3 linked regions of the Homo sapiens genome follow. The protein of the gene in region 1 purifies or fractionates together with the protein of each later gene. This does not show direct contact. Each region holds a gene or a part of one and is shown on either strand. Other genes may lie near its edges. The genes, in order: PDXDC1, WDR44 and PHF6.

Region 1 (3,653 bases):
GCTGGAATGGCTAAGAAAGAGTTGCTTGAACATAAAGATTTGTGGGTCTTACTTCCCACATATTTTGAGTCAATAGGTTGTGCCCAGGAATCTGTATCTTAAAGAATGACCCAAGTGCCACCAGTCTAGTCCAGGGCACCACTCTTTTTTTACCTGGTTGGCCATTGTCCCCTGTCAACTGACCTCTGACTTTCATACATTCTACACAGCCCATTCCAGACCATTCTCCACCTGGCAGAGAGGGTTATAAGTGGAAGTCACATGGTGTTGAAACCGGAAAGGTTCCCTTGTCCCCCTCGCAGGGCATGTGATGGGGGTGTGGCTCGCTTCTTCAGTGCCCCGCTGCTGCTCAGACCTCTAGGAGAGCATACAGACGGGCAGGCTGTGGGGCTCCGACCCCATGGCAGCATCTGGGGGTGAATGTTTTACAGCTCCTAAGGCTCCAGCGGGCATGTGTTACAGTGTGCTCTTTTAATTTAGCCGTCTGTAGGCAGCTTGTTTTAGCTCACTTAGACCCCCTTCCTTATCACAAGGACAGAGGGATTAATGTATCCCAGGTTCTTGTCTTGGTGTACCGGAAGAATGGGATCACATGTGGGCTTGGAGAATGAGTGCAAGGTTTTATTGAATGAAAGTAGCTCTCCGCTGATGGGGGAGCCAGAAGGGAGACAGATTTCCCTTGGAGTTGGGCCGCTCAGCGGCCCTGGCCAAACTCCGCCTCGTCCCCGTGGTTGATGGCCTGCTGGCTTGCCGGGGCCTGTCGGGGTGCTCTTCTGCCGGCCTGCTCTCCATGACCAGCCGCTTGTGTCTTTTTCCACCAATGTGTTCCTCTGGCCATCCAGCCACTTCTGTCTGCCCACTAGGGTCTCAGGTTTTTATAGGCCCAGGATGGTGGTGTGGTGGGCCAGCGTGGTCTTGGGAAATGCAACATTTGGGGGAAGGCAGGAGTGCTTGTCCTCACCTAGGTCCGTGGGGGTAGAGTCCTAGCCAGGGACCCGCCTTTCTCTCCCCAGCACTTCCCTTCCCCGCTTCTGTGTCATTTAAAGGGACCACGCTCTTCCCTTCCCAGCACTCCCGTATCAGTGTCACTTCCCTGCCCAGAGCCCCTGGGTATCTTACCATTTCGGTCGAACAAAGGCCAGGCTCTCCCATGCCCCATGAGGCCTGCACACTCTGCCCCGAATTCGCTTCTGCCTTCCCCCCTTCCACTCTCCCTCTTGTTCGTTGTGCCTCAGTCAGACCAGTCTTCTCCGCGCTCCAGAACACTCTGCCCTTTCCTACCGCAAGGGCTTAACACTCGGCGTTCCCTCTGTCTTACACACATTTCTCTCTTCTGGTGCCAGCTCCTCCTCACCATTTCGGTCTCCACTAAGTATCCACATCCTCAGCCTTCCCTGCCTATCGTGCCTGAGGGGACTCCATCATTTTCTATCAGAGCCCCCAGCTTCACTTGTGACACTAACAACCACATGGAGTGATTTTCTTTCTTTATGGTCTGTTTCCTCAACTAAAATGTAAGCTCCAAGATGACAGAAACCTTACCTGCCTTCTGTCCCAAGTGTCGGGCTCTGTGCCTGGCACGGGTTGGCACCCACTGTGAGGCCTAGTTAGATGATCGTGGCACTCACAGACCTCGCACGGTGCTTGGTAAACTAGTTAGTAACTTAAAACAATTGCTGTTTCCCCTTGAAATCCCTTGAAAGCAAACCTTTTCAAAAATGAAATTAATAATTCTGTCTTATGTGAATGTATTCAAGTGTTACATAGATCACGAGGAAAAAGAAATGTAGCCCTTCTGTCAGATAATACATGAGAATTCAGTAATACGAGTCAGTGCCCTGGGGCTAATATTGGGATGGGAATGATGTGGGGTTTGGAGGGTGTTTTTTTTGGTCAGCCGTGTTTCTGGGAGTGACTCCCTTTCTGTGTTTTGGTGTCAGATCCGGTGTTTAAAGCCGTCCCAGTGCCCAACATGACACCTTCAGGAGTCGGCCGGGAGAGGCACTCGTGTGACGCGCTGAATCGCTGGGTGAGAATGGCAGTCACCCCCCTTTCCTTTCAGGTCCCCGTCCATCACCATCCGACCTGCTGGTGAGGGTGACGCGTGCTCGTGTATGGGAACTGAGGCCCACAGGAGGAGCCGCCCTGCCAGTGCTGGGCCTGCTCTGGAGTTCTGTTCCCCATTGCGTTACCACCTCACGAGCTGGGTCACCTCTGGCAAGTCCTTCTGGCATTGCTCCCTCACTTTCCTTGCTGCTGTATAAGGCTGTGAGACAACAGGCAAAAGGTGGGCTGCAGGGCAGCTGCGGTGGGTTCTGGTGAGCCTGGGCAGCACAGCCGGGAGCCCCAGGCAGAGTCTGCCGAGCATCTGCAGCTGGCAGTGTGGAGCCAGGCCTGCACTTTGATAGCGTTTTGGGCACTGAATAGCAGCTCTAGGATTTGAGTCTGAAGGGTCTTGTGAACAGTGTGGGATGGCGGCAGCAGCAGTTCTAGCCAATGCTGGACACGCCCAGCCTAGCAGGGTTGGCAGATAAGTCCTGGTACATCCATGCTGGGGCTCAGCACAGCTGTGAGAGACCACAGAGCTGAGTGTCTCAAGCAGAAAGGAACTGGTCATAAACGAAATGAATCAATGCAGGTTACTAAGCAGTGTCAAGTAGCATGTTTTATGACAACAACTACAACTCCCTGCCCGCCACTAGGAGAAAAGACGCTGGGGGCAGACCACATGTCAGCAGTGGGTGTCGCTTAGTAATATATTGTGGGTCATTGTTATTTTCTTCTTTTTGTTTACTTGTATTTCCTAAATTTTTCTACAATGAACTTGTATTAATAAGAAAAAACCATAAAATTTACTGTTTTTAAAAAGCTGCTCTAAGTAATCAGACAGTCAAAAGAGCAGGAATCAGCTCTCCAGGAGGCTCTTTGGTCTGGGGCCGAGGGGATGAGGGTGGGTCCTGAAGACGTCTGAGTCCCTTGTTACAGGAGGGTGTTCATTGTGTCCTCCTCACAGCTGGGAGAACAGCTGAAGCAGCTGGTGCCTGCAAGCGGCCTCACAGTCATGGATCTGGAAGCTGAGGGCACGTGTTTGCGGTTCAGCCCTTTGATGACCGCAGCAGGTAAACCAGGCTTGGTGGACATCCCTTGCTTTTGTTCTGGGGCTGCTGGGTAGATTAGCTTGCCCTTATGATACTCCATTCTCCTAGAGTTATTAGCAGCTCTTTTTGGAGGGGCATTTTCTTTTCTTTTGGGCTAAATTTAGGTAGATTAGCATTCCCATGTAACTTACCAGAATCAGAATGAGAATTCAGAAGTCACCTGAATTGGCCGGGCATGGTGGCTCACACCTGTAATCCCAGCACCTTGGGAGGCCAAGGCAGGCAGATCATCTGAGGTCAGGAGTTCGAGACCAGCCTGGCCAACATAGTGAAATCCCGCCCCTACTAAGAATACAAAAAATTAGCCAGGCATGGTGGTACACACCTGCAGTCCCAGCTACTTGGGAGGCTGAGGCAGGAGAATCACTTGAACCTGGGAGGCCGAGGTTGCAGTGAGCTGAGATTACACCACTGCACTCCAGCCTGGGGGACAGAGGAGACTCCATCTCAAAAAAAAAAAAAAAAAAAAAAAAAGTCATCACATGAATTCCTTTT
Region 2 (3,653 bases), on another chromosome or scaffold:
CCACCGTTAGTTAGCATTATGGTGTTATGGTGTTATCGTTCTTTGCATGTAACATGTAGCACTATAATATTTCTTTCTTACTGTGAACACATTCATTCCTGAAAAAAAAGTTGGTAACAAGGAACTGATAGGAATGCAGGATAACTGGCAACACCACCCAAGGTTTTACTGTTAACATTTAATATTTACTGGGTATAGGATGTCCTCAAGTTATGAAGATCCTATACATCCAAAGCACTCTCTTTGCCTCAGCTCCCTTACCTACCTCCTCTTATAGGAACTGGTACCTGTGTGTGTTTAAGGGTGACTGGAGATTGGAGAGAACCAGGAAGTTCAAAATCAGAACCAATTGTGAAGCGCAGTAGATACCACAGAGCATGCTTACTCACCACCCGCCTCCCCAACTAAACCTTGTGTGCACTGCTAGACATAACTGTGGACTATGCTGGGAAATAAGGCAAAGGTTAAAAGTCAACAGCTAAGGGCTATGATCTGGGACATAATAGGCACAGTAAGGTGCACTTAAAGGAAAAAGGACTGATCTCAATCATTAACCTTAACCCTTAAGCCAAGCTAATAAAGATAAAATACCCATTGCAAAATACAGACAAATCTACTTGCTTTCACTCACAAAGCTACTAGTTTTATCAAGCTACTTGTTCATTCTGCTCACCCATCTTTCACTAATCCAATGACTAAGCACCACCTGTAACACTAAAGTCTTTACCAACTTGTCCACCATATCCAATGCAACCAATTTTTCCCTTACTCCTTCCAAAAGTTCCCACCCTTTATATTTCTTCCATCACTGACCCTTCTCAGTTTTAAGGGACAAGAAGTAGTTATACTAGGAAATCTCTGTACTAATGACATTGACTATGCTAGGAAAGAAAAAGCTGGCAGTGAAAGGGGTGGAGTTGGGGCTGAGTGAAATGTTCAATCCACCTGCCATTTTAGTTTGGCATGGATAGGTAATATATTTTAAAAGACAGATTTAAAAAAAAAATTCAATTGTTAACAGTACTGCTAATAACCAGAAAGATGATTCCCTTAGTCTTCCAATTTCAATAAATACTTTCAGGCACAGAATTAAAAGAGGACTATGGATATTAAGTTCATCCACAGCTATTCTTACCAGTTCAAGAACAATGTCAGAAAGAATACTCCCACCTCTTCTCTTGAGCTTGCTTAGTAATCAGGATGCTTGCTCCTGGGACAGTGAGTTTGCATACAGCACTACATACTATTTATAGGTTCTCTAGAAAGTTTGATCTGTGGTTCATAAGAATGCCCATGGTTCAATGAGTTTTGTACTGGAATAGTCTATTACAATTAGTAGTGGCCAAGTAGGTTTTATACAGATATAGATAGCTTGTTACAGGTATGGCTTGTTCTGTATAGGATACCTATTAGAAAATACCATTCAGTGTATACCTATGTAACAAAACTGCATGTTCTGCACATGTACCCCAGAACTTAAAGTATAATAAAAAAAAATACCATTCAAGTTTTCCCTCAGAAGTTTCAAAAAATCTTATATTTCATCCTCAGATTTTTTAAAAACCTGACTCCCCCTTTGAAAAATTTTAAAGATCAGGACTCTGTGGAGAAAGTGAAACCAGTCTTAAGTCTATTTGTACAATTAAAGATTTCCTTGAAGCATTATCATAATTTAACTATAGTTTTTTTTTTTTTTTAAGAGACAGAGTCTGGCTCCATCGCCCAGGCCAGAGTACAGTGGCGTGACCATAGCTCACTGCACCCTCGACCTCCTGGGCCCAAGCAATCCTCCTGCCCCAATCTCCCAAATAGCTAGAACTATAGGCATGCACCATCATGTCCAACTAATTTTTAAAAACTTTTTGTAGAGATGAGGTCTTGCTACATTGCCCAGGCTGGTCTCAAACTCCTGGCTTCAAGTGATCCCTCCACCTCAGCCTCTCATGGCACTGGGATTACAGGCATGAGCTTCTGTACCTGGCCAATCCTTGTTTTGACCAAAACAGGTAAACATATTTATAATTTAAAACTATTTTAGTTACATGAATTCTGAGATTTTTAAGAGTTAAAAAAGTATGTCAAATAAATATAAAAAAAAAGACCCATACAACTATTCAGTCTTTACTGTTCTCTTCCTGTTTATTCAAGGGCTACAAAAGATAACACTTCCTATTAGTTTTCTAAACAGTTTTCTCAAATTAAAATGAATTAATCTAAAGGCCAAACATTCTTTCTACAACCTATAGAAATCATTTTTGTTAAAAGCTGGATTATTTGGTAGCTGCTGATGATCAAGATGCTTTTAAGTCATTTTAGCTAGTTTGTGATGATACTGAGTCTAAAATCACATTTGCAAATATATTTCCTAAATGGTCACCCTCGATCTGGAAATTGATTCTACTTGTTATTATAAAGGGATGGCTATTGGATGCAGTGATGCAATGCATTCAATCTTCAGGGCAATGACTAACACTGGATTGAGAAAATTAGTATGAGGAAATTGCTGCCTAAACATGTTTTTGTTAAATTATATATGTTTAAAATGTTTAAAAAGGTTTGGAGACAAAAAGGTTTTGTGGACTTAAAAAACAACTGACTCTGATGGAATGCCAAACTGTGAACTGCCAGACAGTTGCAGCTGGTAATAGAACTCTAAGACCTGAAGCGCTCTGGCAGAACCTGATTATATGGTAATCCTAGTATCTGAGAGAAGGCAAAAGAGCTAGAAGAATAACTGATAGACTGGTTGCTATAGTAACCAAGATAAATTTGTATACTGACTGAGGAAAAACATCAGGGTTGCCATCAGGTATGAGGCCCACATTATGTCGTAGGTGCTTTTTCCTCGGTTTTGAATCATGAGATGACAGACTAACACAAACACTGCTGAGTTTGAAATAAGGGAATAGAAAGAGTTTCACTCTGAAGAGTAAGGAAAGCACCCTATTAAAGGTTTAGCTGGTTAGCTGAATAATATCCAACAGTGAGAGGGGAACAGTCCTTGTGAAAGTTTGTAGATATTAGCCTAACTATGGATAGAAATGAGAAACATAGGTTATTTATCAATTCAAGCTAAATATCAGTAGGACATCATAAAGTACCTACAATTTTTGTTACTTTAACTTTGATTTGAGGTATTTCTTATAGGTTATTAATCTCTTAGAGAAGGGGTTATTTAATTCATGCTGTGAACATGTGTATCAAAATGATGGGATTTGTCTTATCTCAGTTATCCATGCCCCAGGAAGCAGCACTGTAACTTGGTCTCTATACCTACTGCTGGGGCTACCTTTACCTCTTCCACCTCCATCACCACAACCTGCATGATCTCTTTATACTCCCTTCCTCCACCTCCACTACTACCCCAGGAAGTAACTAACAAAATTGCAGAGTATGAGGAGGAAACAAGCAGCCTCTTAAAGGTGCTTGCCTGGCAAATTCACCTGATTCTGTCAAAGTCTTAACAATGAACTTAAGAGTACAAACACATGGAGTGTTGGGTAATGTAAAGGTTAGACAGTAAGTCTAAAATACCAATAATTAGAAATTATTTTCTGTTTAAGACCACCACTATACTTCACATCCTAAAACTATTTAGGTTTTTAATATTTTTTAAAATCAAGGGACAGGTGCAGTGGTGCATACCTGTAATC
Region 3 (3,653 bases), on another chromosome or scaffold:
GACCTCAGGTGATTTGCCCAGTTTGGCCTCCCAAAGTGCTGGGATTACAGGTGTGAGCCACCACGCCCAGCCTAGAAAGCCCTGTTTTTCAAATGTGGATTTTATTTGGTGGTTTTAGGTTTCTTCACGTTACTGTGCTGATTTCTGAGAACCATAGCACTATGTTTTTATTTCCTAGTCCTTAAAATAAATGCAGATATAAAAAAGAATGATACTTACTTGAAAGTGATTGTGCTGTAAACCTTATTACCCCTTTATTTATTGCTTGACATTATGACTATCCCTGGAAAATATTTCTGTATCCTGACTTGTTAGCATTTTGTCACTTGACACAGCTTGTATAGTCAGAACAAAAGCAGTTTTGGTCCCTAATGTTGAAACATTATTAACAAATGCAATGCCTAGTGTTACACTACATGAAGCAACAGCATACATCTGTCAATATTGCGAAGTTCAGTGGAGATTTAATTTATTTGGACCTTTTTTTTTTTTTTTTTGACAGAGTCTCGCTCTGTCGCCCAGGCTGGAGTGCAGTGGCGTGATCTCGGCTCACTGCAAGCTCCACCTCCCAGGTTCACACCATTCTCCTGCCTCAGCCTCCCAAGTAGCTGGGACTACAGGCGCCCATCACTGTGCCTGGCTAATTTTTTGTATTTTTAGTAGAGACGGGGTTTCACCTTGGTCTCAATCTCCTGACCTCGTGACCTACCTGCCTCGGCCTCCCAAAGTTCTGGGATTACAGGTGTGAGCCACCGCGCCCGGCCTTGGACCTATTCGTTAAAGCATCAGAACTTTGTATGAGTTTTACTATTATAAATTGTTTTGATTAATTTTTAGTGTTATAGTGTAGGGAGATAATTTTTTCCCCAAATGTAGTGTGTTACAAATAACGAAATTTGTTCCTTGATCTAGGGAATGGAACAATACTGGGAATTGAGAACACAAGCTTTAGTGACAGACTTGAGTTTGAATCCCAGCTCTGTCATTTACTAGCTAGGTGATCCTGATTAAGTTATTTACTTCTCCAGGCCATGTTTTCCTCACCTGCAAAAGGGGTTAGATAATGACAGTACTTGCCTCCCAGAATTATTGCCAGAATTAAAAGAGGAAGTATATAGGATTTAAGGTGGTGCTGGGCACATGGTTAGGACTTGATAAATAGTAGCCACCACTTATTGTTTTTGTTTGTTTTTGTTTTTGAGATGGAGTCTTGCTCTGTTGCCCAGGCTGGAGTGCAGTGGTGCGATCTCGGCTCACTGCAGCCTCCACTGGGTTCAAGCAATTCTCCTGCCTCAGCCTCCCGAGTAGCTGGGACTACAGGTGTGTGCCACCATGCCTGGCTAATTTTTAATTTTTTTTTTATTTTTAGTAGAGACAGGGTTTTGCCACATTGGCCAGGCTGGTCTTGAATTCCTCACTTGAGACCGTCTGTCCGCCTCGGCCTCCCAAAGTGCGGGGATTCCAGGTGTGAGCACTGAGGAATAGTGGCAGAAGGGAAGAACTTTTGCTCCGTTTCCTTCCCTTAGAATGTCAGTTTAAACAACTTATATAGGGGATAGGAATGTAACATACGTTTAGGTTTGAAATAATTTTTGAAACTCCTTTTAGCCTTCAGTTTTGCTTCTTTCATTATATCATTTTTACATGATGTGCTATCAGGTAACCAAAATTCTAGATTTAAGTTTGATTCTCTACTATTCCCTGTGTCAATTTGTCTAAGCAATAAAAGGGCTATGAATCAAATAGGAGGGGGGAAAAAGAGTGAAGAGCTTAATGTAACTAGATAAACTGCATATAAACTAGGTAATCAGCTTCCCTAATTGACATTTTTTTTTTTTTTTTGAGATGGAGTTTCGCTCTTGTTGCCCAGGCTGGAGTGCAATGGCGCGATCTCGGCTCACTGCAACCTCCGCCTCCTAGGTACAAGCGATTTTCCTGTCTCAGCCTCCCAAGTAGGTCAGATTACAGGCATGTGCCACCATGCCCAGCTAATTTTTTTGTATTTAGTAGAGACGGGGTTTCACCATGTTAGGCTGGTCGCGAACTCCTGACCTCAGGTGATCTACCAGCCTCGGCCTCCCAAAGTGCTGGGATTACAGGCGTGCACCACCATGCCTGGCCCCTAATTGACTTTTTAAGGCATTTTATCCCGTGAGCCTGTTTGCTTTGGCTCCTGTTCATCTGGATTTCTAGGTGAAAAGTAGGTCATGAACACTCATTCAAAATCATCGAAAACTGGAGTACTGAACCCTGAGTGCTTTCAAGACAAATTTCAATCTGTACCTGGTGTTGACTCCAAAGTTGCTCGCTTGCCCCAAAGAAAAGAACAGAGAGATAAGGAGGCTAGGGCTTGAGGTTAAAGTGTACGTATCAACAGCCAGGTGGGTCAGAGTTGAGGATGAGAGGGCTCAGTAGAGCAGGAGGTGTGAGTGTTTGGTTTTTATGTTCTTGCTGCCACAGGCAATTTTCCAAGGTTCATGTCAGCCACAAGGATCAAAGGAGGAAAGCCATTCTGCATGAACATTTTCATCTCCTTTACACGGTCTTTAATTATATAGCACCAAGATGGACCAGGAAAAATTTGCCAGAGTACTAAGGCTTTTATGATTTGATGCCCTGTTTTTGCAGTTTAGACAGATATATATTTTTCCAGTATGATTTCCAGTTTCTACTGAAGCCATATGGAGATACCACATCTGTACCATCTATTCTTACTTAACTCCAGTCATCTAGCCAAGAAATGCAAATTTCCAAGTAAAATTATGAGTTAGCACTGCTTTTTTGAATTTAAGGAGATACTTGAAAGAAGGATATTTGAAGAATTTACCGTTTCTGGATGAAGCTAGCTGGTGAGATTACTAAGGGTATCTACTATCTACATTGGATAGCTATTCTTCTTTTTTTTTTTTTTTTTTTAAGATGGAGTTTCCCTCTTGTTGCCTAGGCTGGATTGCAGTGACATGATCTCGGCTCACTGCAACTCCGCCTCCCAGGTTCAAGCAATTCCCCTGCCTCAGCCTCCCCATTGGCTGCAATTATAGGCGCCCACCACCACGCCCAGCTAATTTTTTGTATTTTTAGTAGAGACAGGGTTTACCACGTTGGCCAGGCAGGTCTCAAACTCCTGACCTCAGGTGATCCGCCTGCCTCTGCAGATAGCTATTATTCTAATTGGTACCGGTGTCAGATTATATCACAGATTACAAGAAGAGAAAGAGTTCAGAAGGCCATTTAGTTCACCTGTCTTACCCCTATGCAAGATTTCCTACAAGCCACTCAAGATAAGATTTTTGGCCTAAGGATTGGCTGACACGTGTAATCCTAGTGCTTTGGGAGGCCGACTGGGAGGATTGCTTGAGGCCAGGAGTTGAAGACCAGCCTGGACAACAAAGTGAGACCCCTATCTCTACAAAAAAATTTAAAAATTTTGAAATGTGGCATGTTCCTGTAGACCTAGCTACTCAAGAGGCTGAGGTGGGAGGATTGTGTAAGCTCAGGAGTTCGAGGCTGTGGTGAGCTATGATTGTGCCACTGTATCCATCTAGCCTGGGTGATAAAGTGAGGTCCTGTCTCAAAAAAAAAAATTTTTTTTTGCCCTGTTTTTAAATATATCAAGAAATTGTAATTCTACCCAAGTAACCTGAAACAAGACC

Evidence for each region.
Region 2: the proteins of PDXDC1 (region 1) and WDR44 fractionate together in Homo sapiens (co-fractionation; one large-scale study listed by BioGRID). This does not show direct contact.
Region 3: the proteins of PDXDC1 (region 1) and PHF6 fractionate together in Homo sapiens (co-fractionation; one large-scale study listed by BioGRID). This does not show direct contact.

What each region holds. Positions count from the first base shown.
Region 1 is NC_000016.10:15,026,938-15,030,590, forward strand, and holds part of PDXDC1 (pyridoxal-dependent decarboxylase domain-containing protein 1), read left to right. Parts: intron 1-1,940; coding exon 1,941-2,029; coding exon of another isoform or gene 2,030-2,095; exon of another isoform or gene 2,096-2,868; intron 2,869-3,013; coding exon 3,014-3,119; intron 3,120-3,653.
Region 2 is NC_000023.11:118,352,464-118,356,116, reverse strand, and holds part of WDR44 (WD repeat-containing protein 44), read right to left. Parts: intron 1-3,653. UniProt on the Homo sapiens protein: Downstream effector for Rab11 which regulates Rab11 intracellular membrane trafficking functions such as endocytic recycling, intracellular ciliogenesis and protein export.
Region 3 is NC_000023.11:134,379,670-134,383,322, forward strand, and holds part of PHF6 (PHD finger protein 6), read left to right. Parts: intron 1-3,653.